Regions from separate parts of the Homo sapiens genome. Here all the other regions are linked to region 1. Evidence: fine-mapped expression QTL. A gene starts in region 1. Each other region holds a variant in brackets. All regions are shown on one strand. Distances are from middle to middle. Region 1 holds the start of EDEM2 (ER degradation enhancing alpha-mannosidase like protein 2). Region 2 overlaps TRPC4AP (transient receptor potential cation channel subfamily C member 4 associated protein). Region 3 has its middle 8.5 kb from the start of TRPC4AP. Region 4 overlaps TRPC4AP (transient receptor potential cation channel subfamily C member 4 associated protein).

The links. PIP is the estimated chance that this variant, and not a neighbour inherited with it, causes the effect.
Region 2: its variant is the best candidate, but not a certain one, in a credible set for the expression of EDEM2 in left ventricle (GTEx, PIP 0.87).
Region 3: its variant is the best candidate, but not a certain one, in a credible set for the expression of EDEM2 in whole blood (INTERVAL, PIP 0.54).
Region 4: its variant is the best candidate, but not a certain one, in a credible set for the expression of EDEM2 in whole blood (INTERVAL, PIP 0.67).

Annotation. Positions count from the first base shown.
Region 1 is chr20:35,143,166-35,151,273 of GRCh38, reverse strand. EDEM2 (ER degradation enhancing alpha-mannosidase like protein 2) reads left to right here and starts at 3,938. Exons shown (of 11, transcript NM_018217.3): 1 at 3,938-4,122; 2 at 4,339-4,449; 3 at 6,256-6,295. The coding sequence starts at 4,016. It overlaps MMP24-AS1-EDEM2 (MMP24-AS1-EDEM2 readthrough), which reads left to right. Exons shown (of 15, transcript NM_001355008.2): 6 at 4,339-4,449; 7 at 6,256-6,295. The coding sequence starts at 4,355. RefSeq lists enhancers at 3,775-3,904, 4,153-4,756.
Region 2 is chr20:35,004,368-35,012,475 of GRCh38, reverse strand. TRPC4AP (transient receptor potential cation channel subfamily C member 4 associated protein) reads left to right here. Exons shown (of 19, transcript NM_015638.3): 12 at 2,188-2,289; 13 at 3,729-3,812; 14 at 4,836-4,926; 15 at 5,901-6,041; 16 at 6,673-6,781; 17 at 7,906-8,018. Among named protein-coding and RNA genes, the nearest start is that of MIR499B, 18 kb to the right of the region's middle. The variant G/AAG (reference allele first, on the strand shown) is at 4,608.
Region 3 is chr20:35,097,221-35,105,328 of GRCh38, reverse strand. No RefSeq gene overlaps it. Among named protein-coding and RNA genes, the nearest start is that of TRPC4AP, 8.5 kb to the right of the region's middle. RefSeq lists enhancers at 2,970-3,469, 3,470-3,971. The variant T/C (reference allele first, on the strand shown) is at 3,804.
Region 4 is chr20:35,032,674-35,040,781 of GRCh38, reverse strand. It overlaps TRPC4AP (transient receptor potential cation channel subfamily C member 4 associated protein), which reads left to right. Exons shown (of 19, transcript NM_015638.3): 8 at 5,474-5,659. Among named protein-coding and RNA genes, the nearest start is that of MIR499B, 46 kb to the right of the region's middle. The variant G/T (reference allele first, on the strand shown) is at 4,884.

The sequences.
Region 1 (8,108 bases):
CAGTCGATGTGTGTTGAATTCTGTTTTCTGATTTTTTGCAATAACTGTATGGATCTGTTAATATTTTCCTTGTGCTGAGAGATAGTCTCACTCTTTCATCTTCCAGATATGGAAACTGAGTCCCCAAAAGGGAAAATGACTTGCCCGAGATCACACAGAGATAGTGGATAAACAAGTAACAAGACCAAGGGTTTCCGACAACCAGTCCAAGTCTTGTTCCACTGAACACAGAGTCCGAGGACATTGGCCTCAGATACTGATGTGATCTGAGCTCCCTCCAAACTCTATTCACCCACAGGGAAGACTTGAACACCCTATGATTCCAAGTATTCTCCAATTGACATCTTCCCCTTCTAACAAAATTGCAAGCACTTCAAGGGAAAGGACTATGACTTGATTATTTTGGAATCTTAGTTATATGCTCAGCACTGTGCCTCAAACTTTTGAGGGTAGGAACTATTGCCTATAACACCTTGGATGACTCGGGGCAGATGCTCAGTAAATGGAAACAACTGCCCTGCCTTAAAAAAAAAAGAAGAGTTGGGGAGGCAGGGAAGAGAATTAATATGTATCAAGAATTTAATATATACCAGTCACTGTGCTGAGAATGTTCACTTTCATTATCCCATTTAATTCCCAGAATTCCTTTATGGCCTCATCAATTTCTGTATTTTACAATAGGAAATTGAGTCTCAGAGAGGTAGGCAACTTACCCTGAGTCTCTTCACAAGTAAATGCTCAAGTGTGACACTTCACTGGTGGGTCATAACCTTCTAGAATCCAATATCATAAACACAGAGTGAGAGAAAGAAGAGTCCTGATACTTTCCAGAGGGTAAAACAATTTTTTTATTCTCATTAGAGAACATATAGTCACATGAATTGTGAAAACGTAAGTCATGGTTTTATTTGTTCAGTGACAGTGTGGAGAATGACATCAAGCTAGAAAAAGAATATAAAGGAAAATCATGAGTGTTTCAATCTTGCTCATAAAGAGAGACCTATCGTTACCAAATCCAGGCAACCTGAACCCACCCTTCCTGCAAAAGTTTTATCCACACTAGAATTTTGAATGGGAGACAAAAAGATAAGCTATAGGATTTATAATATGGAGAAGGTGAATTTCGTCACAGGGAAAGGCCCAGGTCTGAAAAATATTTAGTCCCTGCGCTAGGCTGGAAACAGCCACCTAAAGTCCAGGTCCTAATCTCTGGAAACTGTAAATGTTTCTCTATTTGGAAAAATGGTGTTTTTTTTTTTTTTTCCCCCTAGATGTGATTAAGTTAAAAATCTTGGAATGGGAGTTTATCCTGTATTATCTGGGTTGGGGGGGGCGCGGGGGGGGTCCTAAATGCAATTATAAATGTCCTTATAAGAGAAAAGCAGAAGGAGATGTGACACATCCACAGAGAAGGCGATATGAAGGCACGGGCAGATACTGGAGTGATACAACCATAAGCCAAGGAATGCCAGCAGTCAGGAGAATCTAGAGAGGCAAGGAACGGATTATCCCTTAGAGCCTTTGGAGTGGGTGTGGCCCTGTCAATAACTTAATTTTAGCCCAGTGAAATTGATTTCAGGCTCCTGACCTCCCAAACTGCGAGAGAATAAATTTCTGTTGCTTTAAGCCACTTGGTTTGTGGTAATTTGTTGCAGGAATCACAGGAAACGAATACAGTGCTCCTGTGTTGTTATCCAGGTCTCAGCTTACTGTCATCTCCTTTCCCTTCCATTTGGAAGCCCCAAGAAGAGTTTCTTTTTTTTTTTTTTTTTTGAGACAGAGTATCGCTCTGTCTCCCAGGCTGGAGTGCAGTGGCCTGATCTTGATCTTGGCTCACTACAACCTCCACCTCCCGGGTTCAAGCGATTCTCCTGCCTCAGCCTCCTGAGTAGCTGGGACTACAGGCGTCTGCCACCACTCCCGGCCAATTTTTGTATTTTTAGTAGAGACAGGGTTTCACCATATTGGCCAGGTTGGTCTTGAACTCCTGACCTCGTGATCCGCCCGCCTTGGCCTCCCAAAGTGCTGGGATTACAGGCGTGAGCCACTGCACCCGGCCAAGAAGAGTTTCTAAAAACATCCCAGGCTGGGTACAGTGGCTTATGCCTGTAATCCCAGCACTTTGGGAGGCCTGGCTGCACTCTGGCTCAACAAACTGAGCTATCACTTCCATCTGACTTTTTCAGCAAATAAGAGATAGCCAATCCTAGAATCATAGAAAGCTCGACCGAAAAGGATCTTAAAGATCCATTTGTTCAAACTCCTCATTATTTATAGACAAGGATGCTAGCCCCAGAGAAGGAGAGGGTCACATACACAGGTTATAGATGAGTGACAGAGTTGTAATTAACTGGATCCTAGATCTGACTTCAAATCCAGTGTTGGTTCTACCGCATGTCACACTGACCAAAGTCATGGGTGTTGCTGTGGTCTAAGGTGCTGACCAAATTTTAGAAACTTGGGAATAAGGGGAATGGAGAAATGGATCACAAACCTCCTGAAAGCTATAGTGCCCCAGGGTAGTCATTTGTCTTTTTTTTTTTTTTTTTTTTTTTTTTTTTGATATGGAGTTTTGCTGTTTTGCCCAGGCTGGAGTGGAGTGGCGCGATCCTCGCTCACTGCAACCTCCGCCTTCCGGTTTCAAGCGATTCTCCGGCCTCAGCCTTCCGAGTAGCCGGGATTTACAGGCACCCGCCACCACCCCTGGCTAATTTTTGTATTTTTAGTAAAGACGGGGTTTCACCATGTTGGCCAGGTTGGTCTCTATCTCTTAACCTCAGGTGATCCACGCACCTCAACCTCCCAAAGTGTTGGGATTACAGGCGTGAGCCACCGCGCCCAACCAGGGTATTCATTCTTACCCAAGACATTCTACAGGGCTGACAGGGGTAAAGCTTCCGGTTTGAGATGGAGACTGAAGGGACCATGATTGTGTAACCACATCCCAAATTGGGAGGAGAGAAGTGTCATGAATTCCTAGAACTGACGGGATTTCAGGAAACCTCAAGAGTGACAGCATCGGAAAATGCAAGAGGTTTTAAAAAAAAAAGAGTGGAAGTTTTGGACAAATAAATGTGAGTTGTGTCTTATACAATCAACAAGTAACTGGTTTGGGAAACTCAATATCCCTAAATAAGGGAGCAGACCACCCCTCATATTGTCTTATGCCCAATTTCTGCCTCAAAGAAAATGTAGGAGTTAAAAGAAAGACAGAAGTGAAATCAGTAGTCAGACAGCCCGGCGATGCATTCCAGGCCTGGTAATTAAAGATCGACCCCTCCTGACCTAACCGGTTATATTATCTATAGATTCCAGACATTGTATGGAAAAGCATTGTGAAAATCCCTGTCCTGTTCTGTTCCGTTCTGATTACCGGTGCACCGGTAATCAGTCACGTACCCCCTGCTTGCTCAATCAATCACGACCCTCTCACGCGGACCCCCTTAGAGTTGTAAGCTCTTAAAAGGGACAGGAATTGCTCACTCGGGGAGCTCCGTTTTTGAGAAGTGAGTCAGCTGACGCTCCCGGCCGAATAAAGCTCCTTCCTTCTTTAACCCGGTGTCTGAGGAGTTTTGTCTGCGGCTTGTCCTGCTAGGTAATAATGGTAAAGGCTGAACATTTCTCATGCTTACCCTGCCTTCATACTTAATAAGGTTGTTGAAAAAAATGAATGAGAGAATGCATTTTAAATGCTCCGTACAGTACTAGTACACAATAAGTGCTCAATACATGCTAGCTGTTATTATTAAAACATTAATTAATAACAGTAGTAACAACAGCCACTGACTTTAAGACACGTTGATCAGTGTTGCCGAAACCGTACATCCGAAGTTGCTCTTCGGCCGCGTTTCGCTGCCCATTGCATTCAGGGGCTTGTAGTCCGGAAGTGAGAGGCTGATTTCTCAGCGCGCAGGCGCAGTGGCGCGGATTCCCGGAAGAACCCGCAGCAGCTCCCAGGATGAACTGGTTGCAGTGGCTGCTGCTGCTGCGGGGGCGCTGAGAGGACACGAGCTCTATGCCTTTCCGGCTGCTCATCCCGCTCGGCCTCCTGTGCGCGCTGCTGCCTCAGCACCATGGTGCGCCAGGTCCCGACGGCTCCGCGCCAGATCCCGCCCACTACAGGTGAACTGTGACCCGCCCTTTCGCAGTTGGGGAATGGGAAGCGTGAACCCGGTCCTTTCCCTTTCCGTCCATCCCAGACCCCGACTTGCTCCGACACAGCCGCTAGGTCCCAGGGAGAAATCAGCTAGTGATTCCCACTTTCCGCCCTGTATCTTGTTCTTCCCCCGCTTGTTTTTGTGTTCTTGCCCCATGCCTGATTTCTCGTCCCCCACCCAGGGAGCGAGTCAAGGCCATGTTCTACCACGCCTACGACAGCTACCTGGAGAATGCCTTTCCCTTCGATGAGCTGCGACCTCTCACCTGTGACGGGCACGACACCTGGGGCAGGTAGTGCGAGCGGAGGGGCAAGGGGCGGCCAGGGTCTGACTCTCTGGGCCTCGGCGGGCGGGTCAGCTGGGGCTGGTGGCTTCATGGTCTCCTCACCGGCACCAGAAAGCTCCCAGCTGAGCTAGAGCCGCGCTCCCCGCAATTCTTACTATCACCTCCAGGATCCACTTAGCCTCTCGCAGTGAAAAAAAAAGTCCTGGATTAGCCGGGTGGGCTGGATCGCTGAGCTCAGCCCCAGCAGTAACAGGCATCAGCTGTGGGGACATAGGCAATTTCTGGAGTAACGAGATACCGTGGAAGGGCTCCAAGAATTAGAAAACCCACCCCTTTCATTATGTAGGTGGGCATTCAGATCCAGGAAGGAGTGTGACACTCCTAAAACTTAAGTCTTTGTAGTTGGTGTGCCCCGTGCCTGAAATACACTCCCCATTTTCCTCCCATCACTGGCTGCTGCTTGTCATTCAGATCTCAGCTCAGTATCTTAATACCCCTACGAGTTAGGTGCCATTATCCCTGTTTTACACACGAATGTGCTAAGGTCGGGAGAAATTAAACTCAAAACTTGTGATGGTTTTTATTTTTTTAAGTTGAAACAAAGTAAATACAAATGGCAAATTCAAGTGGTAAAAGATTATATACAATAAATATCTCCCATACCCTAGAATTCCAACTATTAACTTTCCTTTGTATCTGTCCAGAAATATTCTTGGTTTATACCATTATATATATAGATGTGTGTATGTGTATCTTTTTAAAATGAACTTCTTAAAGGCATAATTTACATATAATAAAATACACTCTTTTTTTTTTTTTTTTTTTTTTGAGATGGAGTTTCGCTCTTGTTACCCAGGCTGGAGTGCAATGGCGTGATCTTGGCTCACTTCAAACTCCGCCTCCTGGCTTCAAGCGATTCTCCTGCCTCAGCCTCCCAAGTAGTTGGGATTACAGGAGCCCACCACCACACCCGGCTAATTTTTTTGTGGAGACGGGGTTTTGTCATTTGGCCAGGCTGGTCTTGAACTCCTGACCTCAGGTGATCCACCCACCTAGGCCTCCCAAAGTGCTGGCGGATTACAGGCATGAGCCACTGTGCCCAGCCTACACTCGTTTGAAGTGACCACCATCACAGTCAAGATATGAAACACTTCTGTCACTTTAAAAAGTTCCCTTGTGGCCCTTTATAGTTCATCCCTGCACCACCACTGACCCTAACAATTGCTGTCTGCTTTCTGTCAGCATGTCTTTTTGAAACAGATGGAAACATACTAAACCACCCTGACTTTTTCATTAAAAACAATTCGAATGTCTTTCCATCAGCACATAGAAGTCTTGATAACAATCTTTTTGATAACTCATAGTTTTGCACTGTTTATAACACAGTTTAATCACCCATTAATGGGTGGACAGTTGGGTTCTTTCCAGCCTCTTGCTGTTCTAAGCAATACTGCCATGAACACTCTCAAACAGCTGTTCACTGTGAATTAAATTCCTAGAGGTGAAAATTGGTGAAAGGCCTGTGCTTTAAGCTGCAATCTTATACTGCCTCCCAATGGTAGAGGAGAATGCCAGACTATAGGTGATGTATTTAATTACAATTGAGCTACATCAGCCAACCCTCCCAGGTGCATTAAGTGGGTCAGAGAATACCTGCGATTTTCACTGTGGTTTCTCTGTTGTGACTGTAAGTGGGACAGGCAGAGGCATTACTTTGCCTCATTTAGTTTTAGGGGGATCAGATCTAGGGCAGCCATAATATCTGGTATTTGATTTTCTTACTAAGCGGCTGGGATTTCTGTCCTTTTGCAGTTTTTCTCTGACTCTAATTGATGCACTGGACACCTTGCTGGTAAGTATCTCGTCTGTTTCTTTTCCTTTCCACTGTTACATAACCAACATCCTTCCTCTTTTGGCAGCGTGACTGTGGGTGAAAAATGAATTCCTCTCCTAGGCCTTTTATTTGCATCTCATGATTCTGAAGCGTCCGGCTGTGGTTGCCTAGCTAGATAGGGGAAAAACGAACTACAACTTATGCAGATTCATTTATTTAGCAAACATTTATAGAGGACCTGTTATGTACGGAGAATTGTGATAGGCTTGCATAGCTCTATGGGGGATACAGAGACTTTGACATCTCCTGTTTTCAGAGGCTTACATTCTAGTGGCCATGTTCAATGATAATAAAAGGGTATCAGGCTGAGCATGGTGGCTCACACCTGTAATCCCAGCACTTTGGAAGGCCGAGGCAGGCAGATCACCTGAGGTCAGGGGTTTGAGACCAGCCTGGCCAATATGGTGAAACTCCATCTCTATTAAAATACAAAAAATTAGCCCAGCATAGTGGCACATGTCTGTTATCCCAGCTACTGGAGAGGCTGAGGCAGGAGAATTGCCTGAACCCGGGAGGCGGAGGTTGCAGTGAGCCGAGATTGCACCATTGCACTCCAGCCTGGGTGACAAGAGTGAAACTTCATCTCAAAAAAAATTATAAAGAAATAATATCAGTGACTAGTTAGTATGTTTCTGTAGGGCTTAGTACAGACATGTATTAATTCTTCTAACAACTTCTTGAGGTTAGTACCTTTACTCCTTCTTATCGTTAAGAAACCTGATGCTTAGGGATGGGCACAGTGGCTCACGCCTGTAATCCCAGCACTTTGGGAGGCCAAGGCGGCAGGACTGCTTGAGCACAGGAGTTCAAGACCAGCCTGGGCAATATGGTGAAACCCCGTCTCTACCAAAAATATAAAAAATTAGGCATGATGGCACATGTCTGTGGCTCCATTTGTTAGGGAGGAGGGTGAGGTAGGAGGATTGTTTGAGTCAGGGAGGCAGAGGTTGCAGTGAGCCGAGATCGCACCACTGCACTCTGGTCTGGGTAACAGAGTAAAACCCTGTCTCACACAAACAAAAAAAAGATATAAAAGAAACCTGATGCTTAGAAAGGTAAAAAGGGCCAGGTGTGGTGGCTCATGCCTGTAATCCCAGCACTTTGGGAGGCCAACATTGCTCAAGTCCCAGAGTTCGAGGCTGTGATGAGCTATGATCACACCACTGCACTCCAACCTGTGTAACAGAGCAAGACCCTGTCTCAAAAAAAAGACTTGGACTGGTTCAGGTCAAGTACCCACTCCACAGCTAGAGGGATGGGATCAGCCTCTCCCAAACCACAGGAGTGACTGCCGGGGAAGAGTGATTCCTCGAGGGTAAATTGAGATGTTACTATCAAAAGAAGAGAGATTGAGATTGCATTTGGCTAACGGTTTAAATAAAGAGGGTTTATTTTCTCAAGTAAAAGAAAGTCTAGAGGTAATTTCTAGCATTGGGTCAGCTACGCAACTGTGTCATTAGAGACCAGCCTCTTTGTAGCTTTGCATTCTAGTATCGTTAGTGTTTTGGCTTTTATTCTAATGCTTAGTACGTCATGGTCTCACATAGCTGCCATCACTTCAGAAATCGAGTCTGAGTTCAAGGCAGAAAGAGAGAGACTAAAAGCCATGTTAGCTGTGTTTGTCCCTTGGTATTAAGAAAACAGAAGCCTTCCCAGAAGTGCCCCCAGTAGACCTCTCAAGGGTCAGAATTGACTGGGTAACACAATCAACTGCAGCAGCAAAGGAGGCCGAGAAAGCTTCTGGATTTCCAACCTCTGGTGGGAGGCCATG
Region 2 (8,108 bases), 140 kb after region 1:
CAGCTGACCCTTGACCTTGGCATTGGGGAGGTGATGTGGGGACCTTAGTGAACAAGAATTTCAGTGAGCTCAGCTCCAGCCAGCTGCGTGTGCACAGGAAACTGGGCCCACTGTTGCATAACTTCTGATTTTTTCTGCCAAGCAAAGGCAGAAATTAAGATTTATGTGAAAGGTCCTGATTTTAAATGTTGGTTTAAATATTTTAAAAACCTTGCATTTGAGCTAACAGAACATGCCTGGAGACAGCTGTGGCCCCAGGGCACCTCCATCATATGCACCCATCCTCTGTGAGAGGTTTTCCGGCTGAAAGCCATAGAAGGGCTCCAGGAAGCATGTTAACCTTCTGAAAAATGGCACCACATATGTTATGGAACTGTGCTGTTTTCCCTGAGGAAGTGAGTCTCTGGCTTTCATCAGACTCTTCAGTCTGAGTACTCTGTGGGATATCAGGATGAATGCAAACAGCCATGGCCCCTGCTCTCATGAAGGGCAGAGTCTGAAAACAGAGACAGTTGTTCATCCAAGGATTCCACCGTTGAGCATTAGTGATAAGTGGAGATGGTATTCAGGAGGAGAGGAACGGGGTCTGTGAGAGACATTTGACAGGGTCCAGGACTGGCCAGAGGACACTCAGGAACTCTCCCCTGCAGAAGTGGCTTGCCAGCCAAGACCTGAAGTGTCAGCTTGTAGTGAATTGAGTGAACAGGCATGTGAGAGGGTGTGTGTTCTAGCCAGAAGCCCCTGAACGAGGGAAGACCATTGTGGCCAGCTGATGGGAGTGATGTGGGCTTGGCTCTGGGCTGGGCTGCACAGGACGTTGTGGGTCACAGTCACAGGGTGTTGTGGGTCACAGTCACAGGCCTGGATTTTATATACAGATGGTCCACTTAGAATTTTTCAACTTCACAATGGTACAGAAGTAGAATTTTGAATTTTGATCTTTTCCTGGGCTCATGATAAACAGTTCAATACTCTTGCAATGCTGGGCACTGAGCTGCAGCTGCAGCTCAGAATGTATTTCAAGAAAAATGGTGACCAGCTACACGATCACCAAGGTAGACAACCAGTACTCTGTGCTGTGCCTGCCGTGTTGCCAGTGATTATGGCCAACTGTAGGCTGAAGTCAGTGTTCTGAGCACATTCCAGGTAGGCTAGGCTAAGCTAGGAGGTTCAGTGGGTTAGATATATTAAATGTGTTTTCTTTCTTTTTCTTTTTTTCAAGACGGAATCTTGCTCTATTGCCCAGGCTGGAGTGCAGTGGCATGATCTTGGCTCACTGCAACCTCCACCTTCTGGGTTCAAGCAATTCTACCTCAGCCTCCTGAGTAGCTAGGATTATAGGCGTGTGCCACCACGCCCAGCTAATTTTTTATATTTTTAGTAGAGATGGGGTTTCGCCACGTTGGCCAGGCTGGTCTCGAACTCCTGACCTCGTGATCCACCCGCCTGGACCTTCCAAAGTGCTGGGATTACAGACGTGAACCACCGCGCCCGGCCTCAATATGTTTTCAACTTAACGGCATTTTCAAATACGATGGGTTTATCAGGACATAACCTCCTCCTAAGTCAGGAAATGTCTGTTCTAAATGCAGTGGGAAGCTGTGGAAGTGTTTTCACCGGGAGTGACAGGATCAGAGTCCTGATTCTGAAGATCACTTTTGGCACCGTGTGATGACTCAGTTCCTGTGGGATACCTTTTAGTAAAGGGAGCTGGTGTCCTGGGAACACAGGACCCAGCAGTGACAGGCCTGGATGGCAAGTCGGGGGAAGTGTCACAGTTAACCAGGCCTCTGTGTGATGTGTGACCGTGGTGCTTGGTGGGACTGCTGCAGCAGGGCCAGGCTTGAGTGTGATTGGACCTGTTGAGGTGTTGGTGCCTTTGAGAAAACAAGTGGAAATGTAGGCAAAGAGAAAGGCCCAGAGCTGCTGAGGGAAGGGGCCTTGTCGATGAATGTGGCAGGCAGGGGTCGGGGATGGGGGTGGGGCCAGGGAGAGATTCCACTGCCTGAGAGCCCAGAGTTCCCTCCTGCAGGTGCTGGCTGGAGTGAGAGGTGCTAGAGGAAAGTGCCTGGTGGCTTCTCAGATTCTGTCCACAGGAAGTGGGCAGGAGACTCCCTACACTAGCCTGGTGCTGACCCAGCAGCCCCAGTTCCTGTCCTTTACCTCCTCCAACCCATTTTGTTTCAGGAACAAGTACTTGTTACTCAACAACCAGGAGCTGAATGAACTCAGTGCCATCTCTCTCAAGGCCAACATCCCTGAGGTGGAAGCTGTCCTCAACACCGACAGGTGAGTGCAGGGGTGCAGCTTTTCCCTCAGCCCATCCCGGCTGCCCACGTTCCCCGGGGGCTCACCGGTGAGCACATCCAGGTATGCACGCGTGTCCTCTCTCACATGCAGCTACAGTGTCCTGAGGGCTCCTGTGTGCCAGGCATTGTATTCATGTCACCTGCATTTTCTCATTGGAGCCTCACAGCAGCCCTAGGAGGGGAGCCCCATCAGTACCTGCACTTGACAGATGAGGTGAGCCTCAGAGAGGTCACCTGCCAGAAGTCATGTGTGCTCCGCACTGCCCCACCGCCTTGTCTCGTGCATTCAGCCCCTTTGCTTATGTGCTCCTTTCTTGCCTGGTGGCATCTGCAGCCAAGCAGGACAGACAGAAGCCTCTTACCTGCTGCCAAGTGTTAGGTTGCATTACCTGGGTTAGGTTTGCCTCACCTGGAGCCAGGCAGTGGGGGGCTAGTCTCACAGGCGTCAGAATACAGTGGACTTTATCCAACAAGAGCCATGATTTCCCAACCTTTTTTGTTTGTTTGTTTTGTTTTGTTTTTTAGACACAAGGTCTTGCTCTTTCTCTCAGGCTGCAGAGCAGTGGTGTTATAGCTCACTGCAGCCACAAACTTCTGAGCTCAAGTGATTCTCCTGCCTCAGCCGCCCGAGTAGCTGGGACTACAGGTGTGCGCCACCATTCCCAGCTAGTGTTTTTACTTTTTTTTTGTAGAGATGGGGTCTCACTATGTTGCCCAGGCTGGTCTCGAACTCCTGGCCTCAAGTGAGCCTCCCAAAGTCCAGGGATTACAGGTGTGAACCACCTCTCCTGGCCTCCCAATCTTTTTTTTCTAAGGTAGCAGAACTCTTCATTCAAATAAAATTGTACCCAGTCCTGCCCTGATGTCTGCAGTGGATCACAGCAGAGCTGCTCTGTTTGAAGGGCCCAGACCCCTGCGTGCCTGGCCGTCTTCCTTCCCCCATGACGGGGCCAGAGTCATTTCCTCATCTCCTGCCTTTGCTTCATAGACTGGGAAGCTGAGGCTTGGAGTTGTGGACACTTGCCCAAGGCCAGCTGGAAGTGAACCTCAGGCACGGAGTACGCTGGGCCTCACCCTATTGGCAGAGTCTTTCCCCATCTGGCAGACTGGCATGACCTGTTTCAACACACTTTTGGTATAAACAGCTCTCCTCTGGCAGTTCTAAGCCATGTCTGATTCTGGATATGTTTCTGGCCTGGGAAGGAAAGCTGGCCTGAGATGTGGTGGGAATGCACTTGGCAGTTTAATTCTGTGGCTGCAGGGGTCTCCGGGGCTCTGGACCCAGTTGGAGCAGGAAGGCATCCTGCAGACTTGGAAATGTCCCCATGGTTTTTCACCGCCTAAGCCAGCAGAATGACCCATCCCCAGGGCCCCTGTCAGCCTCTCAGATCTGTCACCAATATCTCTCTTCTATTTCAGGAGTTTGGTGTGTGATGGGAAGAGGGGCTTATTAACTCGTCTGCTGCAGGTCATGAAGAAGGAGCCAGCAGAGTCGTCTTTCAGGTGAGTCTGGGGAAAAGTACCTGCCGATTCTGCGGGGCTGCAGAGCCAGGTGTTTCTCAGGAGGTTAGGAATACCTCCTTTAGTCACCAGCGTCCATGCCTCCTGAAGCACAATTACTGTTGGGGAGAGGTGGTTTGACTGCCATCTTGTGTAGTTTTGACTCGACAGGTATGTGAGAGCTTCTTCTGCAGCCCACAGTGACCGAGCATTCACCAAGCACCTGTTCTGTGCTGGTGCCTTATGGGTGGGAGAGAACTAGGATACGGGCCCTGCCATGAATTCCCTAGAGCTGTGCTGTTTCAATGCAGTGTGGGAAGGAATGGAGCCAGGGTTGGCCCAGGAGCTATAGCAGCAAAGGAAAGCCTCTTCCGCTGCTAGGGCTGGGGGCTGGGTGAATACAGGGAGACCTTCTCTGAGGTCCTTAGATACATCTAAGATGAGTCTTGAAGTCAGTGGACAGGTAGAGTTCCATCAGGGCCGGGCGTGAGCTGTCAGGAGGCTTCATGCCCACATGGGCCTTTGTCACTTCAGTGCCTTGTCCAAACTCCCTGTCGTGGATACCCGCTGTGCCCTCTGGGTCCCTCGGTCAGCATCAACCACTACTTCCCTAGGCCAGCCCATCGTCTGTGAGCCCAGTGGCCTGTCTGCATGTGTTCGTCCGCTTCCCACACACATTCCTGGCCCCTCAATTGCACGTCCTCCCATTCTTGTGAAAGGGCAAGGCCTAGAGTATGTTTCACGGGGGCTCGCAGGAGCCAGCCCTTCGATCCCAGATGTTACCCTTTCTGTGACACA[G/AAG]CCCCTTCCAGACAGACCCAGATAGAAGACTTCTCCACTGAGCTGGCTCTCTGTGAGGATGGGGGCACTGCTGTGTCCCCAGGCCCAGGATGAAGCCTGATGCTTGGTAGATGTTCAGTAAATGTTGAGTACATGAAAAGGCAACAAACATCTCCCAACCCCTTGGAGAACTGAACATGGGCCGGAAGAGGGCAGCCTTAGCCACCTGAGCCAGTATTTGGGTCGCAGGTTTTGGCAAGCTCGGGCTGTGGAGAGTTTCCTCCGAGGGACCACCTCCTATGCAGACCAGATGTTCCTGCTGAAGCGAGGCCTCTTGGAGGTATGATCTGGAGCAGCCAGTGTCTTGGGTTCCGTCTCCCCCCAGCCCACGCGTTGCTGTGTCCTGTCCTGAGCCCCAAACAGTTCATCAGGAGCAGAGCAGATCTCGTGACTTCCAAATGCCTGTGCAGGCTGCCTTAGATTTTGCCCTGGGTTTCCAACTGTGGGTTCCCCATGGGTGCTTACGGGGTGACAGGTTTAGAGGGTGGCCAGGCCATGCAGGAGGGTGACAGTTTGGTTACCCAGCAAGGCATTTTGACCCTGAAGATATTTTGTACTAAAAGTTAATTTTCCTTTATTGAATAATGGTCTTCAGAAAAAGTAAAACTTAGAGCAGAATGGCCAAAGTTATAATTGGTCTTTCAGATTTTTTCATATGGACAAGAAACTGACCCACGAATTATAAAATCCATGTGGAAAAGAATTGATCCAAATCAATGTAACTTCAAGAAAATGTAGAAAACTTTATAAAGGAGTAAATTGGCTTTATTCTCTTGATGAAAACTCAGTATTTTGGTGTAAACTCTATTTAAACAATTTCGTTCATAAACACAAAGACAAACCATGGGGTCAAAATGTGTCCTTTGCTTTTAAATTCTGTCCTTCATTTACTTGAATGACCTCAGTGCTTAGGCAGTGGCCTGTGTTTTAGACCTGGTGATGACAGCTCCCCTCACCTAGGAGCTGAGCACCCCGGCCATCTTGGTGACCACAGAGCAGGTCACAGGCTTCAGCTGTACGCCCTGGGCAGGGGAGAGATTGTGCTGCATTCCCAGTCTGCTCCACCTCCTGGTGAGGTCTGTCAGGCCTGGTCCTGTCCTTGGAGCCACCAGCATCCTCAGACAAGAATCTAGACAGTGTTGCCAGTTCCATCCCCAGGATGCTTGCTCAAAGCCAATGCATGGTCTGAGCTCCATGCCAGGCCCTGGTGGGGGCAGCCACGTTGACACCTTCACCCTGTCCCTCCTCACCCAGCACATCCTTTACTGCATTGTGGACAGCGAGTGTAAGTCAAGGGATGTGCTCCAGAGTTACTTTGACCTCCTGGGGGAGCTGATGAAGTTCAACGTTGATGCATTCAAGAGATTCAATAAATATATCAACACCGATGCAAAGGTAAAGTTAACCCAGGGCTCTGTGGAGTGTGCTGGGTTGTCCAGAAGTTCACCTGGAGTCCTGGTCTGCCAGGCTTTAGGCACAGGTTTTACGTTAGAGACGACGGGGGAGTCTGGGCAGTCTTTGGCAAACATTCATTGGAACCTGCTCTGTCTGGCTTTGTGCTAGACCCTGGGAATGCAGGGATGAAAACCGGGGCTGCTTGTGGGTAGGGAGTGAGGGTGGGAATGGGTGGCTTGTGCGCCTGCCGTGACGCAGCATGGTGGGTGCCACGGTGGGAGCCGCTGTAGGGAGGGACTGGGCCTGGTGTGTTAGGCTCACCGAGTGTGTGTGACAGAAACCCAGCTCAGGCTAGCTGAAGTAAAATTAAAAGTAAAAATTAAAGGAATCCAGCACCCTTGAGCGTAAAACCACTGGAGAGAGTGTCGGATCTGTGCTGAATTCCGGGGAGTGCCTCTTAGTACCTGGGTGGTGAGGGGAGGTCCCTCAGCTTATCTGAGCCTCTGTCTTCCTATCTGAAGCAGTGGGGCTGGTAGAGGTCGCTGATGCCCCTTGTAGTGACTATCCCCCCGGGCCATGGCCATACCTGGCCAGCAGCCCACTGCCTGCTGTGAGCTTGGTTTCTGTATAGTTCCAGGTATTCCTGAAGCAGATCAACAGCTCCCTGGTGGACTCCAACATGCTGGTGCGCTGTGTCACTCTGTCCCTGGACCGATTTGAAAACCAGGTGGATATGAAAGGTACATGAAAGGCAGGCTGTCAAGGCAAGTCATGCAGGGTAAGAATGCTGGCATCAGACACCCTGTCTCCAGCAGGGAGACAAGAATGACTGAGGGAGCTGCACCAGATGCCCACGTGGCCGGCCTCAAGGTGGCGGCTTCCAGGGCAATTGGCTTTGCTGCCTTGTTCAACACTTTAATAAGGTGAAAATCCATTGTTGCTAGCAAGATGCAAAGAAAACCAGAAAAAGACCTTCCTCTTCTGGGCTGGTATTGCCTGGCACGATGAGTTGGCCCCCTCGTCCTCAGTGTGCTGTGCGTGGCATCGCAGGTGCCCTGTGGTGCAGCAGGCATCTGAACCCTCCTGGACTTGCTAACGCACTTCCATGTGTATGCGCACGCGTTTCCTTTTTTTCCTAGGAGAGGGCTTGTGGCATCCAGCAGATTCTCCTGAGGGTTTGTGACCCCCCCACACCCCCAAAAAGTCAGGCACTTGTTCCTTGTCACGGTCACTGTCATTGATAGCAAGAAGTATCCCGGTTGTTGGTAATTTAGCCGTTTGCTTCCTTTTTCTGCCCCAGAGGGTCTGTTTCAGGGGAACAGCCACACAGATTTTGGTACCTTCGGTTATTGCCCTGCCTCCCAGTTGTGCGGGAAGCAGTTGCTCCGACACTAGTGGACGGAGCAGAACCTGTGCCTTGTGGTCTCAGCACTGGGCCGGACTCACCTGAGAGCTGGTGTGGAAAACCAGTTGCGCTAGGACCTCTGCAGAAGGAGTGGAACTTTTGCGTTGTTTTTCTTAATGCAGCGTCATGGATCCATCTTCCTGTGGAGGGAACTCTTCTGTGTGTGATATGGAGGGCACGGGTCTGGAGCCAGTCTGGGGAGGGCTGAGGGAGAGCTGCCCTGAGCTTGGTTCTGGAGGATGAGGTGGGGTGCTCCTGGGCACTCTGAGAACATGGCTTTGCCTGGTAGCAGGACAGCTGGAGGTCCTTCTTTCTGCCACAGTCAGCTTTCGTTGAAGCTGTTTTGATGATGAGCTCCTAGCTTCAGAGTCAGGACCCAAGCGGGGCTCCACGAAAGGCCTGGGCGACCCAGCCACTGGGCCTAAGCCTGACCTGCTGCACCCCTGCCTCCCTCCACAGTTGCCGAGGTACTGTCTGAATGCCGCCTGCTCGCCTACATATCCCAGGTGCCCACGCAGATGTCCTTCCTCTTCCGCCTCATCAACATCATCCACGTGCAGACGCTGACCCAGGTGAGAGGCCCCGGCAGACACACAGCAGGGAAGGTCGATTGGAAACCACTTCCTTTGTCCTGGTGCCCAGCAGGTTTCTGTCCCCCACTC
Region 3 (8,108 bases), 46 kb after region 1:
ACCAACAAAATGACATGTACACCAATGCATTATAATGATGTTCTTGCAAATGAGAACTTAAAACCATCAAAACTTAAAAGATGCTTGGAAACATGACATGTTGAATTAGTCAGTCTCTCGAATATTTCCAAAGAAAGAAAAACATATATAATGTGATAGGCAAATTTTATGATTCATGTTGTGACTGTCAGTGAGAAAGCCTTATTATCATTGTATTGGGTTGCATATTATGTGCCAAAAGAAAAAAATTGCTCACATGGTTCCTGAAAAAAACATTTATTCTCTGGCATGTATTTTGGTGTGTATAGTTTTTATGGTGTAGCAAGCCATAAAAACATACCTTAGCAATAATAGAGTTTCTCCTTGAATCTATACTGTTGCGGAATGTTGGAAACAATGCTTATTATGCTGTTACAATCTCGTATAGATTTTGTAATCCAACCAGAGAAAGTCAAATTGAAAGTTGCACAACACTTAGCTTATATCTTACATGAGTGGTAAGAACATTTTAAGGAGGGTCTTCTTGTTTGGTTAATCTTCTCTCACAAAACTGGATTAAAAGCATTCAGAGAATTGACAATTGTAACTTTGGCCAATACAGATTAGTCCAGACAAATATAAAGACATTGTATGAGAGTAGCAAATATGAATGAAAATATAATACAGTTATTATAAAATTGTTAGAAGAATCTGAAAGCAATGCTATTTGGAATACTCTTTTATATGCTGTAAATCTTAGGAAAACAAAGGGATCCTGCTAAAATTCATATATATGTTGGGGGAAAAACAGTGATAATCAACTTCTTGAAAACAAATTTTCAGGGATTACAGCTGACCACATCATTTACTTTAGCATATTGAAATTGGCCAATCATATCAATGTTGGCCAATCTAACCAAGATTTTTTTTTTTACATCCTTAGAGAATTAAATTAGAAGTTGTTCCAACATACTGAGCCTGTCCAAGCATTCCAAATAACATTACTTCTATGGCAAGCAAGATTTCAAAATAGTATGTGCCACTGGGTCAGTGATTGTCAAAAGTGGTCCCTGGTGCAGAGGCAACAGCATTACCAAGGATCTTGTTGTATTTAAAACTCTTGGGCCCCATCCCTGACCACAGATGGGCCCCCAATCTGGTTTAACAAAGCCAACCCCTCCAGGTGATTCTAATGCAAGCTCAAGACTGAGAACAAGGGTACTAGATGTTCCCAACATTGCTGCAACAAATTGATGCAATTTTATTAATGAAAGCAGTTTGTATTAATCCAATCTCACGCTGCCAATAAAGACATACTCAAAACTGGGTAATTGATAAAGGAAAGAGGTTTAATTGACTCACAGTTCCGCATAGCTGGGGAAGCCTCAGGAAACTTATGATCATGGTGGAAGGGGAAGCAAACAAGGTCTTCTTCACCTGGCAGCAGCAAGAAGTGAAGCGCGAATGGGGGGAAAAGCCCCTTCTAAAATCATCAGATTTTGTGAGAACTAACTCATGATCAGAATAGCATGGGGGTAACTGCCCGCATGATTCAATTACCTCCCACCCGGTCCCTCCCACAACATGTGGGGATTATGGGAACTACAATTCAAAATGAGATTCGGGTGGGGACACAGGCAAACTGTATCACGGTTTGAACTGAATGAAATGAAATTAGAGATATTTTTGCACCTTATCTCCTATGTTGGTGTCAATGTTATGTTGCTTTCATGTCGGTTGGTGACCTTTTTTCCTGGCCTTTGGAAGAAATTATGTGATGTTGGCATTATTTCTTCCTTAAAAGTGTGGTAGATTTCAAAGGCATTAGGGATTGGAGTTTTCTTTGTGGGAACCTTTTAAATTAGAGATGAAATGTCTTTAATAGTTATAGGATGATTCCAATTTTCTATTATGTTTTGTGTCCATTTAGGTAAGACTTTTTTCTAGAAATATTTCTGTTCCACTTAAATTTTCAAATACATAGGCATAAAGTTATTCATCATGTCTTCTTATGATCTTTTGGTGCTGAAGAATCTGAAATGATATTCCCTTTTCAAATTTCTGACATTAATTTCTGGTTGGAATCTCTTCTTTTTATTCATGGAGTCTGTTCTGATTTGATCGATTGTTTTCTAGGATTACAGCACAACACTCAATCTGGGATTTCTTTTCTATCTGCACCTGCGGATCACAAGGTCAGGAGCTTGTGATCCTGACCAACATGGTGAAACCCTGTCTCTACCAAAAATACAAAAATTAGCTGGGCATGGCATGGTGGCACACGCCTGTAATCCCAGCTACTCGGGAAGCTGAGGCAGGAGAATCGCTTGAACCAGGGAGTTGGAGGTTGCAGCGAGCTGAGATCATGCCACTGCACTCCAGCCTGGCGACAGAGTGAGATTCTGTCTCAAAAAAAAAAAAGATATTAATTATCCACTTATTCATCAAGCTCTGCTCAGAGGGCTTTGGGTTGTATATAAGACAATGCTAATTTGTCACCTGTGAGGAGCTTCCAAAGAATATAGTACAGATTCAGAGGCAGTGGGTTTTAGATTTTGTTTTTCTTTTTGAAACATATTTTTGGGTTAGATGCAGTGGCTCACGCCTGCAATCCCAATGTTTTGAAAGGCAGAGGTGAGGGGATTGCTGGAGGCCAGGAGTTTGAGACAAGCCTGGGCAACATAGTGAGAACCTGTCTCTACAATAATATGTTTTTAAAAATGTTTGTGTGGGTTGGAGCTCTGATGGTAATTGCTTATGTGTCTGCCTTCCTCCACTAGACTTGAGCCCTAGAAGGCACAGGCTGCATTTGTCTTATTCACAGATGTATCCCCCACGCCTGGGGCAGAGCTTGTACATAGGAAGTTTTCAAGAAATATCTGGTGAATGAATGTAATTCAGTGACTACATGCCTTTATTTACAATAGTATGTATTCTAGTGTGCTGTGATAATTTGTTAGTTTATGAAATCTCTATTTTATGCATCTTTGTTAAGATGACATGTATCAAACACTTAGTACAATGTCCGGAACATACATGGTAGGTATTTTCTTTTTCTTTTTGAGACGGGGTCTCGTTCTGTTGCCCAGGCTGGACTGTGCAATCTCTGCTCACTGCAGCCTTGGCCCCCAGGGCTCAAGCAGTTCTCCCACCTCAGCCTCCCAACTAGCTGGGACCACAGGCATGCACCACCATGCCAGGCTAATTAAAAAATATATATATATTTGTAAAGATGAGGTCTCACTATGTTGCCCAGGCTTGTGTCCAACTCCTGGGCTCATGTGACCCTCCTGCCTTGGCCTCCCAAAATGCTGGGATTTCACGTGTGAGCCACCACATGGGGCCTAGGTCTTTTTTAAATGTTAATTTTCTTATTTTCTTCCCTTTGCATTTCTTTGCATCTAGCACAATCTCTAATACATAGTAGGCGTTCAGTGATTTAGAGATCACTGTAAACAATCCAAGAACCACTGGCAAAATGTGTGTGTGTGTGCATGCACGTGTGTCTGCCTGTGTGTCCGCACGCACACGTGTGTGTCTGCCTGTGTGTCTGCGCATGCACGTGTGTGTCTGCCTGTGTGTCGGATGCATGCATCATTTGGGGAAAGAAGTTTCAACTTTATGTCATAAGAGTCTTCAGTGTTGCTGAAGAATGGCTGTTGTAGATTAAGGAGTGACTAGCTTTGGGAATGAGGTAAGAATCTACATCTGTGGAGATTGGAACAAAAATTTAGAGAGACTATTTTCTGAACTCAGAACCGATCATAGTGTTGGACAAGTTTAAGTCCCACAGGGCCCATTTAAAATTAAGATTGTCCCAAAGA[T/C]GACACAGGAATTAATTTGAGAGGACTACCAATGGTCAAATTTGGGACAATTTGAGCATCAAAAAGAATGAGAAATACACACACACAGAATTTTTTTTCTTTTTTTTTGAGACAGAGTTTTGTTCTTGTCCTTCCTTCCGGGTGTGCAGCAGGACCCTCTCTGGAATGGGGGTCTTATGACCTACAGTCAAACCAGGTAGGTTGGATAATTTCTTGATGGCCAGTTTATGCACAGAAAGGTGTGGTGGTTTAGGGGGAGGGAGTTAGAGTAATATTTTTAGGTTTGGTTTCACCGCTGGCAAGGGGAAGGAGGAAGGTTTCTGGTTTCTTTTTTTTTTTTTTTTTTTTTTTGAGATGGAGTTTTGCTCTAGTGCCCAGGCTGGAGTGCAGTGTCACAATCTTGGCTCACTGCAACCTCCGCCTCCCACATTCAAGCGATTCTCCTGCCTCAGTCTCCAGAGTATCTGGGATTACAGGCATGTACCACCACACCTGGCTAATTTTGTATTTTTAGTAGAGATGGGGTTTCACCATGTTGGCCAGGCTGGTCTCGAACTCCTAACCTCAGGTGATCCGCCTGCATCGACCTCCCAAAGTGCTGGGATTACAGGAGTGAGCCACTGCGCCCTGCCAGTTTCTGGTTTCTAAACCCTGCCTTGGGGAAGAGGGATTCTAGTTTCTATGACTAGCCTCAGGGGAGAATAAGAGGCCAGAGACAGAAGGGCAGGAGACGGTCAGAGAGAGCTGCTTCTGAAGCCTTTATCTTAGGGTATCATCTTCTTTTTTATTTTTTCAGAGACAGGGTCTCACACTGTCACCCAGGTTGGAGTGCAGTGGTGGGATCATAGCTCACTACAGACCCCAACTCCTGGGCTCAAGCAGTCCTCTCACCTCAGCCTCCCAAGTAGCTAGAACTACAAGTGTGTGCCACCAAGCCCAGCTCATTTTAAAATTTTTTGTAGAGACTCCTGGTTTCAAGCGATTCTTGTACCTCAGCTTTCCAAAGTGCTGGAATTCTAGGTGTGAGGCACTGCACCCGGCCCTGGACTATCATTTCCTGAGACGGTACACTTCCCAGCAGTAAAAAGGAATGAACCACTGACATGCAGATCAACATGGATGAATCTAGAAAACATCATCCTTAGTGAAAAAAGCTAAACACAAAAGACTATATATTAGATGGTTCCATTTATAGGAAGTTATGGAACAGTCAAAATTAATCTATGATGATAAAATTAGAACAGTGGAGAGGTACATTTTTCTCCTTTGGAGTTAGTAAGTAACAAGTGCATGAGAACTTTCTGGAGTAATGGAAATTTCTATATCCATTGGGAGTATTGGTTAAATTCAGGTGTTGGTTACACAAGTATATACATATGTCAAAATTCATCAGATTACATATTACCTAATATCTATGCATTTCATTTTATGTAAATGATACCCTAATAAAACCAAGGGAAAATAGAATAACCATAGTAATGGATTATAACACATAAAATAAAAAAAAGTTTATGAGTCCATAGTGATACCCCAGAAAAAGGGCGGGAGCTCCTTTTGGGGGGGAATATTACCTAATAAAAGAGGAAGCAATGGTAGAATTAGAAAGTTACAATTTTGCAACCACCAGCATGATAATCCAGGGAGGGATCATCAAGGGATGATAAAAACTACTGGGTTGGCCAGGTGTGGTGGCTCACACCTGTAATCCTAGCACTTTGGGAGGCCAAGGTGGGTGGATCACGAGGTCAGGAGATCGAGACCATCCTGGCTAACATGGTGAAACCCCGTCTCTACTAAAAATACAAAAAAAACCCAAAACAAAACAAAAAAAACTACTGGGTGGGGGCTGGGCGCGGTGGCTCACGCCTGTAATCCCAGTACTTTCGGAAGCCAAGGCGGGTGGATCACCTGAGGTTGGGAGTTCCAGACCAGCCTGGCCAAAATGGTGAAACCCCATCTCTACTAAAAAAAAAAAAAAAAAAAAAAGCAAAACTTGCAATGTGAAGTGGCTCGTGCCTGTAGTCCCAGCTACTCGGGAGGGAGGCTGAGGCAAGAGAAGAAGAACAGAAGGTTGCAGTGAGCCGAGATTGCGCCACTGCACTCCAGCCTGGGCAACAGAGCGAGACTTCATCTCAAAACAAACAAACACAAACATTACTGGGTGAAAGGTGGGTGGAGAACAAGACAGTCTCGTAGTCTTGAAGGCCACAGATTACTTATTAACCCCAAAATGTATGTTTCCAATGAAGACATATTAAGTTTGATCCAACAGATCAAACTTAGCATCATCAATAATGGGACACATTTACATTATTTCTTTCTGATATGAAGCAATGGGAAAGACACACCATCACCTGTTTAATATTCTAGCCATAAAAGCTTAATCCTAACCAAATCATGAGAAAACAATAAAGCAGATCCAGATGTCAGGGTATTCAGTACAACTGGCCCGGACCCCAAAACTGTCAATATCCCGAAAGGACAAAAGAGATGAGGGACTCTTCTAGATTAAAAGACAGTGACAAGACATAGCTTTCAAATGTATGCATGATCCTTTACTGAACTCTGGACTGGGGGGAAGAGACTGTAAGGGACATTTGGGGGGTAATTGCAGATATTTGAATATGGATTATAAGATAAATAATGGCCAGGCATGGTGGCTCATGCCTGTAATCCCAGCAGTTTGAGAGGCCAAGGTGGGCAGATCACTTGAGGTCAGGAGTTCGAGACCAGCCTGGCCAACATGGTGAAACCCCATCTCTACTAAAAATACAAAAGTCAGCTGGGTGTGGTGGTGGGTGCCTGTAATCTCAGCTACTCGTGAGGCTGAGGCAAGAGAATCGCTTGAACCTGGGAGGCAGAGGTTGTGGTAAGCCGAGATCACACCACTGTGTTCCAGCCTGGGCTACAAAGCAAGACTCCATGTCAAAAAAGAAAAAAAGCCTGGGCATGGTGGTTCATGCCTGTAATCCCAGCACTTTGGGAGGCCAAAGCAGGCGGATCACCTGAGGTCAGGAGTTTGAGACCAGCCTGACCAACATGGAGAAACCCCATCTCTACTGAAAATACAAAATTAGCCAGGTGTGGTGGCGCATGCCTGTAATCCCAGCTACTTGGGAGGCTGAGGTAGAACAATAGCTTGAACCCAGGAGGCAGAGGTTGTGGTGAGCTGAGATTGTGCCATTGCACTCCAGCCTGGGCAAAAAGAGTGAAACCCTGTCTTAAATAAATAAATTTAAAAAAAGATAAATTGTATCAATATTAAATTTCTTGGGTGTGATGGTATCATAGTTTTTAGGAGCATGTCCTTGATCTTAGGAGATACATTCTAAAATATGCAGGTGAAGTGTCATAATATCTACAATTTACTTTCAAATGGTTTAGCAAAAAATGGCTTAGCAGGATGGGTGCAGTGGCTCACATCTGTAATCCCAACACTTTGAGAGGCTGAGATGGGAGGATCCCTTGAGCCCAGGAGCCCAAGGCTACAGTGAGCTATGATCGTGCCACTGCACTCCAGCCTGGGCAACAGAGCGAGACCCTGTCTAAAAAAAAAAAAATGTTTAGCAAAACTAACACAAACCCTCTCTACGTATAAATGAAGTATAGAGAGAGATACATATATGGAAAGAGCTGTATATATACATATATGTATATATACATATATGTATGTGTATATATGTATATATACACATATATATGTATGTATATGTATATATACACATATGTACGTATATGTATATATGTGTATGTATATATACACATATGTATATATGTATATATACACATATATGTATATATGTATATAGGCACACATGTATATATGTATATAGGCACACGTGTATATATGTATATATACACACGTGTGTATATGTATATATACACACGTGTGTATATGTATATATACACACGTGTGTATATGTATATATACACACGTGTGTATATGTATATATACACACGTGTGTACATATGTATATATACACACGTGTGTACATATGTATATATACACACGTGTGTACATATGTATATATACACACGTGTGTACATATGTATATATACACACGTGTGTACATATGTATATATACACACGTGTGTACATATGTATATATACACACGTGTGTACATATGTATATGTATATACACACGTGTGTATATATGTATATGTATATACACACGTGTGTATATATGTATATGTATATATACACGTGTGTATATATGTATATGTATATATACACATATATGTACATATGTGTATATATGTATATGTATATATACACATATATGTACATATATGTGTATATATAC
Region 4 (8,108 bases), 110 kb after region 1:
TCTGCGACAAAAATTAGCTGGGCATGGTGACACGCCTGTAATCCCAACAACCTGGGAGGCTGAAGCAGGAGAATTGCTTGAACCCAGGAGGCAGAGGTTGCAGTGAGCTGAGATTGTGCCATTGCACTCCAGCCTGGGCAACGAGTGAAACTCCGTCTCCAAAAATAAATAAATAAAATAAAAGATAAGCCGTCTGCAAGCTGGAGAACCTGAGAAGCCATTAGCATGGCTCAGTCCAAGTCCGGAAAACTTAGAACCAGGAAAGCTAATGGTGTAGCTCCCCGGCTGGAGGACCCCAGAAACTGCTGGTGCAAGTCTCAGAGACCAAAAGCCAAAGATCCTGGAGTCTGATATCCAAGAGCAGTAGGAGAAAAACTTCCCACTCCAGAAGGGGGAGAATCCCTTTTTGTTTTCCTCCATCGCCTCCCACTGCTCCCCCACCAATTGGATGGTGCCTGCCCACATTGAGGGCAGATTTTCCCTTAGTTCACACACTCATACACCAATCTCTTCTGGAATCACCTTCACAGACACACCCAGAAACAGTGCTGTGCCAGCCATGTAGGCATCCCATAGTCCAGTCAAGTTGACAGCTAAAATTAACCATCACACCACCGCATTCCCTAAAGGGCCTGTTTCAAAACGCAGTCATATTTAGGGCTAGAGCTTCAACGTATGAATTTGTGGGGGCGCGGGGGGTGGGGACACAGTCCATAACTGTATGGAAAGCTGAAATATGTAGGATGTTGCCAAAAAGTTTTCGTTTCGTTTTTAATAAACTGTGGCTGTGAGGTCATTTTCTTGTCTAGCAAAAATAATGATTTACACTATCTTCCTGGGGCTCAGATAATTTACATGTAATTATCTAATGTAAATTATCTGAGCCCCAGGAAGATAGCGTAAGTCATTATTTTTTGAGATTCATTTTAAAATAAATAATTATTTTTTGAGTCCTTTTTGAGATTCTCAGAACTACCAGTTGTTCTTCTGTCGATTTAGAAGAGAACAGCTGGTTTCCTTCTGGGGGAAAGTAACGTCTTTCAAGATTCTTAGCAGAGATGTAAATGAAGCTATAGGCTAGATAATTGTCAATTTATAAGTGACACTTAGCTGAGAGGGGCTGAATTATGCAGCACATGAAGCTGGAAAGCAGGAGGGGAAACTACAGGAGTATGGGGGGAATACTGATGTTTCAACAGTGAGAAGAGAGAAGAGGCCTGCTTCTGCAGAAATTCTCAGGGGTTGTGAGTGATTTAGTTGTCAGTTTAACATTAACCAGCCAGGTGTGGTAGCTACTGATAAAGCTGTGAGAATTACAAGGACTGGATATGCTGGGATGTCAGCCCATGAGATTGTGTATGAGTTGCTAGGTATGATTGGTCCAGTGAATTTTTTTCTGGGGAGAAGGTCTTAGCTTTTATTAGCTTTTCAAGAGGTGAGTGACTCACAACAGCTCAAGAATCTCAGGTGGGAAGTCAGACTTAGAACCCTGAGTACCGGGCACTTCCCATCTGGAGGAGTGTGTTGAGTGTGCAGGAATGGGGAAGACTAGCTCCTACATGCTGTCCTGAGAGGAGCAGGTCAAGCAGCAGGAGCTATTTTTGCTGAGAACAGAAGTATAAGAGTAAAAATCCAGCTATGTGAAGATTTTCATGTAGAATACAAATTCTTTTTATTTCTTTTTTGTTTTTTTTGCTTTGTTTTATTTTGAGACACAGTCTGGCTATGTTGCCCAGGCTGGAGTGTAGTGGCACAATCTTGGCTTACTGCAACCACCACTTTCTGGTTCAAGCGATTCTCGTGCCTCAGTCTGCGAAGTAGCTGGGACTACAGGCATGCGCCACCAGGCCCGACTAATTTTTTTGTATTTTTAGTAGACATCGGTTTTGCCATATTGGCCAGGCTGGTCTTGAACTCCCAAACTCAGGTGATCCACCCACCTCGGCCTCCCAAAGTGCTGGGATTACAGGCATGGGCCACCATGCCCCGCCTACTGATTTGTTTTTAGAAAAAATAATACACACCTAAAATTTTTTTTAAATGATACAAAAAGTACAGCAGAGAGTTTGTTCCCCTCCCTGTGGTAACTTTTTACCAGTTTCTTAAACGTCCTTCGAAAAATATTCTATACATGCCCAATCATGGGACGGGGGAAGGAGGGAGGGACAGAGAGAGATTGACTCCTGTTTGTACAGATGGTAATGTAAATAGGTAATATAAAATAAGTGCTGCTCTCTTTTTATTAAACTTATCTTGCCAAAAATTACACTCTAGTATATATAGAATTATATGATTCCTTTTTGTAATTATATAATATTCTATTATACAGGCATACTGTAATTTAATTAGTCCCCCATTAATGGAAATTGGTAAGTGTTGACAAATTAACCCTCCAAAGAAATTACTTGTTCATCTTCCCCACCGTGTTGTCTGTAGCCTTTCCCAGTACAGAGCATTATCAAACTTTTTTATATTTGCCAAGCTGATATGTTAAAAAAAAAAATGGTGTCTCAAACAAAAATCTATTTCTGTGTAATTATTTTATGGAGATGGAAGTCACGTAACATAAAATTAGCCGTCTTAAAGTGAACAACTCAGCGGCATTTAGTACATTTACAGTGTTGTGCAGCTACCACCTCTATCTAGTTGCACGTTTTCATCACCCCAAAAGGAAACGCCGTACACATTAAGCAGCTTCTTCCCATTACCCCTTCTCCCCAACTGCTGGCAACCACCATTCTGCTTTTTTCTCTGTGGATTTACCTATTCAGATTACTTCATATACAGTCATGTTGTCACTTAGCAGTCTCTATCCTTCTGAGAAATGCAGTGAGGTGATTTTGTCATTGTGTGAATGTCATAGAGTGTACTTGCACAAACCTAGCTGGTATAGCCCATGATACACTTAGGCTGCAAACCTGTACAGCATGTTTCTGTACTAAATACAGTAGGCAGTTGTACCATAATGGTAAGTATTTGTGTATCTAAACATAGAAAAAAGGTATAGTAAAAATACAGTATTATAATCTGATGGCACCACCGTCTTCTGTGTGGTCGTTGTTGACCGCAACAGCGTTAATGCAGTGCATAACTGTAAATGGAATCATATAGCATGTGGCCTTCTGAATCTGGTTTCTTTCACTTGGCATAATGTTTTTGTGGTTCATTAATGTTGTAGCATGTCAGTACTTCATTCCTTTATATGGCTGAATAATACTCATCATGTAGATACCACAGTTTGTTTATCCCTTCAGTTAATGGACATTTGGGATATTTTCATCTTTTGGCTGTTGGGAATAGTGCTGCTATGAACATGTGTGTACACATATTTGTGTGTGCACCTGTTTTCAATTCTTTTGGGTATATATGTAGGAGTGAAATTGCTGGGTCATATGGTAATTTTATGTTTGACTTTTTTTTTTTTTTTTTTTTTTTGAGACAGAGTCTCGCTCTTTCGCCCAGGCCGGAGTGCAGTGGCGCGATCTCCGCTCACTGCAAGCTCTGCCTCCTGGGTTCACGCCATTCTCCTGCCTTAGCCTCCCAAGTAGCTGGGACTACAGGCGCCTGCCACCGCGCCCAGCTAATTTTTTGTACTTCTTAGTAGAGATGGGGTTTCACCGTGTTAGCCAGGATGGTCTCGATCTCCTGACCTTGTGATCCACCCGCCTCGGCCTCCCAAAGTGCTGGGATTACAGGCGTGAGCCACCGTGCCTGGCCAACTTTTTGAGGAACCTCAATGTAGTTTTATTTTATAACTAAGGTCAAACATCATCTTATAGCCACTCACTAATTATGGGAGGGGTGTGTGTGTGTGTGTGTGTTTGTGTGCGCACGCGTTGAGACAGAGTATCACTCTTGCCCAGGCTGGAGTACAGTGGTGCAGTCTCAGCTCACTGCAACCTCTGCATCCCAGGTTCAAGCAATTCTCATGCCTCAGCCTCCTGAGTAGCTGGGACTACAGGCGCACGATACCACGCCTGGCTAATTTTTGTATTATTGGTAGAGATGGAGTTCGCCATGTTGACCAGGCTGGTCTTAAACTCCTAGCTTCAAGTGATCCACCCACCTTGGCCTCCCAAAGTGCTAGGATTACAGGCATGAGCCACCGTGCCTGGCCAGCTTGTCTTACTTTATCTCTACTCCCATTCACTATACCCTACTTCACCTTGGGTTATTTTGAAGTAAACCCCAGACATCGTATAATTTCACCTGCATATATTTCAGTGTTTCTACATGATAACGACTTTTAAGAAACGTAACTGCCACTGTATCAAAAATTAATAGTAATCCCTTGATATCCTGAAATATCTAGTTATTTATTAATTTTTAATTAGGTGTAACATTCACATGGTTCCAAAAAATCTGCGGATTCAAAAAGGTATTTATTGAAAAGTTTCAGTTCCACTGTTACTCTCAGTGACCTAAATCCCCTTTTCCACTTGACGGACATTTTGGCTGTTTCCATCTTATGGCTGTTTACTGTGGCAGCCACTGCTCTTGGCTTCTTTTCTGTCCTTCCAGGGAGACTTAATGCATATACAGGCAAACATGATCAGGCATTAGTCTCATTTTAAAGAAGGTTAAATGATGGAGTCAGGATTTGAATCTGGATCTCCCTGCCTCCAAAGTTTATGATGTTCTAATATGCCGATCAGAATTTCCACCTCACTCATTGTGAATAAAATGAGATTGGTGGAAAGAAAAATTGGGTGATTATTCAGTTTTTTTCTTTACCTTAAAAAAATGTTTATCTTTCATCCTGCTAGTAAATGTTACAGGAAAATTAGAAACTATAGATGAGTAATTTTAAGAGAATTGTTTGTATTCTCTCCTGCTTAGGAACAGCCACAGTAAATTCCTTGGTATATATGCTTTCATTCCTT[G/T]TGTATTTTGAAGAAGCAAATATTTAAATTTTTGAAGAAAATTAAATTCATATTGTTTAATAATTTACTCTCTAACAAGTAAACAGCTGTTTTGAGTCACTATATAAAGATGTATGTGTCATCATTCTTAGTGTCTATGCAGTATTCCATTGTATAAATGTGTCATTGTATTTAATTAATCAGCTGTTGATGAACATTTAGTTACCTTCACCTTTTTGCTGTTACAGAAACCACATCAGTGAACCTCCTTATACAGATATTCTCGTGTAATATGACTGGTTATTTCGTTATGGTAAATTCCCAGAAATTGACCTCTTGGCTCAAAGACACACACATTTAAGGCATAAAGATTATTCTAATTTATATTCCCAGTAGATAAAAAGCCTGTTTCCCTGTACCTGCTAAAAACTGAGCTTATGCCTGTAACATAATTACTATTTACCTTGGTTTGACATTCATTTTAAAAGAGTAGCTTTAGCTACTATCAGAGTAAGAATTATTCCTATCATGCAGATTGTTTGTTAGGGCTTTAGGGGTAGTTTTGCTGGTCTCTATTTTGAAAATTTCCTCGCTTGTTCTTTCCCTGGCAGCGGCCCTTCTCAGCATTCCTGGCTTTGTTGAGCGGCTTTGCAAACTGGCGACTCGAAAGGTGTCAGAGTCAACGGGCACAGCCAGCTTCCTTCAGGAGTTGGAAGAGTGGTACACATGGCTAGACAATGCTTTGGTGCTAGATGCCCTGATGCGAGTGGCCAATGAGGAGTCAGAGCACAATCAAGGTATGGAAGGATGGGTCCCCTGAGTGATCGGGAGCTTTTCCTTGGGCGCCTGGGACCATTCTTGCTCTTCTTTCCAAGAAGGATTAATTTGAGATTTGCTCAGAGTAGAATTGTCCTCAAGGCAATTCTAGACCATGACTATTAAGACTCTTTTGACAGCTTGTTACAGAAACTTCATTGAACTCCCCAAAGTGGACCTGATTTCAGGGAGAAGGGCTTTGTTGCAGACCTGAGACAGCTGTGTCTCAGGGACTAACAAGAACCAGTAACCAGAGCATTCTTAGGAACCTAGAAACTTCTCTCCTCGTCTCTTTTTCTTTCTACAGTGTTTCTTAGTCTTCTCTCTCACTGTACCCTACCTTTTCCTGGTCCCCTTGATGGGACTAGGCAGAAGACTGCCTATTAAATAAGAAGACTCCCAGTCTCAGCTCCAGCTTCCTGGTAAAGAACTCTGGCCCATCTTTGGTTAGGTGCCCAGCCTTAAAGCATTTGACTCTGGCCAGCAGGTTCAGAATATACAAACCCAGGAATTCTCAGCTCCCAAACAAGGAATAGGTTTCTCATTGGGAGTGGGGGGCCATCAGCTTTTCTTCTTCCCTCCAGCTCCAAATTGAAGAGACTAAGTTCTCGGTGAGTATGGCAAAGAGGTCAGAGGCTTCCTTCCTCCACCCAGCTCCATACTGTACTCACGGTGTGGAAGCTCTATCCCACATACTTGAGGCCAAGAATTCTATGGCTCTGATCACCTTTGCCCTAGCTTGCTCATGTACAGAGGTTTTACACTGGGAGAGGCAAGCCCGGAAGACTAGAGGCTACTGACCCTGCTCTGAGAATTTGCCCACAGAGAGAGGCAGTTAATAAGAACAGAGTCCAGGGAAGTTCATGCCTGAGGAGATTTTGATGGTAAGCAAATAAAAAGAGGTACCTCTTCTTTTTTTTTACTCTTTTTTTTTTTTTTTTTTTTTTTTTTTGAGACGGAGTCTCGCTCTGTCGCCCAGGTCGGACTGCGGACTGCAGTGGCGCAATCTCGGCTCACTGCAAGCTCCGCTTCCCGGGTTCACGCCATTCTCCTGCCTCAGCCTCCCGAGTAGCTGGGACTACAGGCGCCCGCCACCGCGCCCGGCTAATTTTTTGTATTTTTAGTAGAGACGGGGTTTCACCTTGTTAGCCAGGATGGTCTCGATCTCCTGACCTCATGATCCACCCGCCTCGGCCTCCCAAAGTGCTGGGATTACAGGCGTGAGCCACCGCGCCCGGCCTTTACTCTTTTATTTTTTATATTTTCTCTTTTTTGAATAGAGACGGGTTTTGCCATGTTGGTCAGGCTGGTCTCAAACTCCTGGCCTCAAGTGATCCACCCTCCTTGGCCTCCCAGAGTGCCAGGTTTATAGGCATGAGCCACTGTGCCTGGCCAGGTACCCTCTTCTTAATTAAGAACAGGGTGATCTACAGGCCAGCTAGTTCACCAGAGAACCAGGGAAGGAGACAGCTGAGAAGAACTCTCCCAAGGTCAGAACAAAGCTCAATTTCAAAAATTACCCCTTCCTGAATTTAATTGAATTAGACTTTGGAGCAGTGTATACTCCAGGGCATTATCAAAAACAGTCGAGAATTCAGTCAGCAGTTAGTAGAGCCTAACAGCTGGATGTGATACCAGAAGAGGTAGAAAGCTTAACAGAGAGATCATGGAAAGAGCTAGTCAAAGACAGCCTGGCTCAATGTCATCCCAGGGAGACTCTGTACATGCCCAAGGTTGCACTCTCTGAGGCACAACATGAAAATCTTCACCAGTCTTTGGGGAAGGAGACTTTACGAAAATAGTCTAACCAAGTCACTAAACTAATAAATAAGCAAATAACAACAACAAACCCTGAAGGAGGGGGAATCAGTATCCAGAGTTGCTACAGTATATTACTTAAAATGTCCTTTTTTGAGATGGAGTCTCTTGTCGCCCAGGTTGGAGGGCAGTGGCACAATCTCGGCTCACTGCAACCTCTGTCTCCCATGTTCAAGCAGTTCTCTCTCAGCCTCCCGAGTAGCTGGGGTTACAGGTGCATGCCACCACACCCGGCTAATTTTTTGTATTTTAGTAGAGAAAGGATTTTACCTAGTTGCTGGTATTGAACTCCTGAGCTCAGGCAATCCACCCACCTTGGCCTCCCAAAGTGCTAGGATTACAGGCGTGAGCTACCACACCCAGCCTAAAATGTCCAGTTTTTAACAAAAATTGAGACATACACACAAAAAACAGGAAGTGTAACCTATACACAAGAAAAAGCAGGCAACAGAAATTTCCTGTGAAAGGGTCCAGATACCAGATTTAACAGCAGCCATTAAAAATATGATCAAAGGGCTGGGCGCGTTGGCTCACACCTGTAATCCCAGCACTTTGGGAGGCTGAGGCGGGCGGATCACGAGGTCAGGAGATCGAGACTATCCTGGCTAAGAC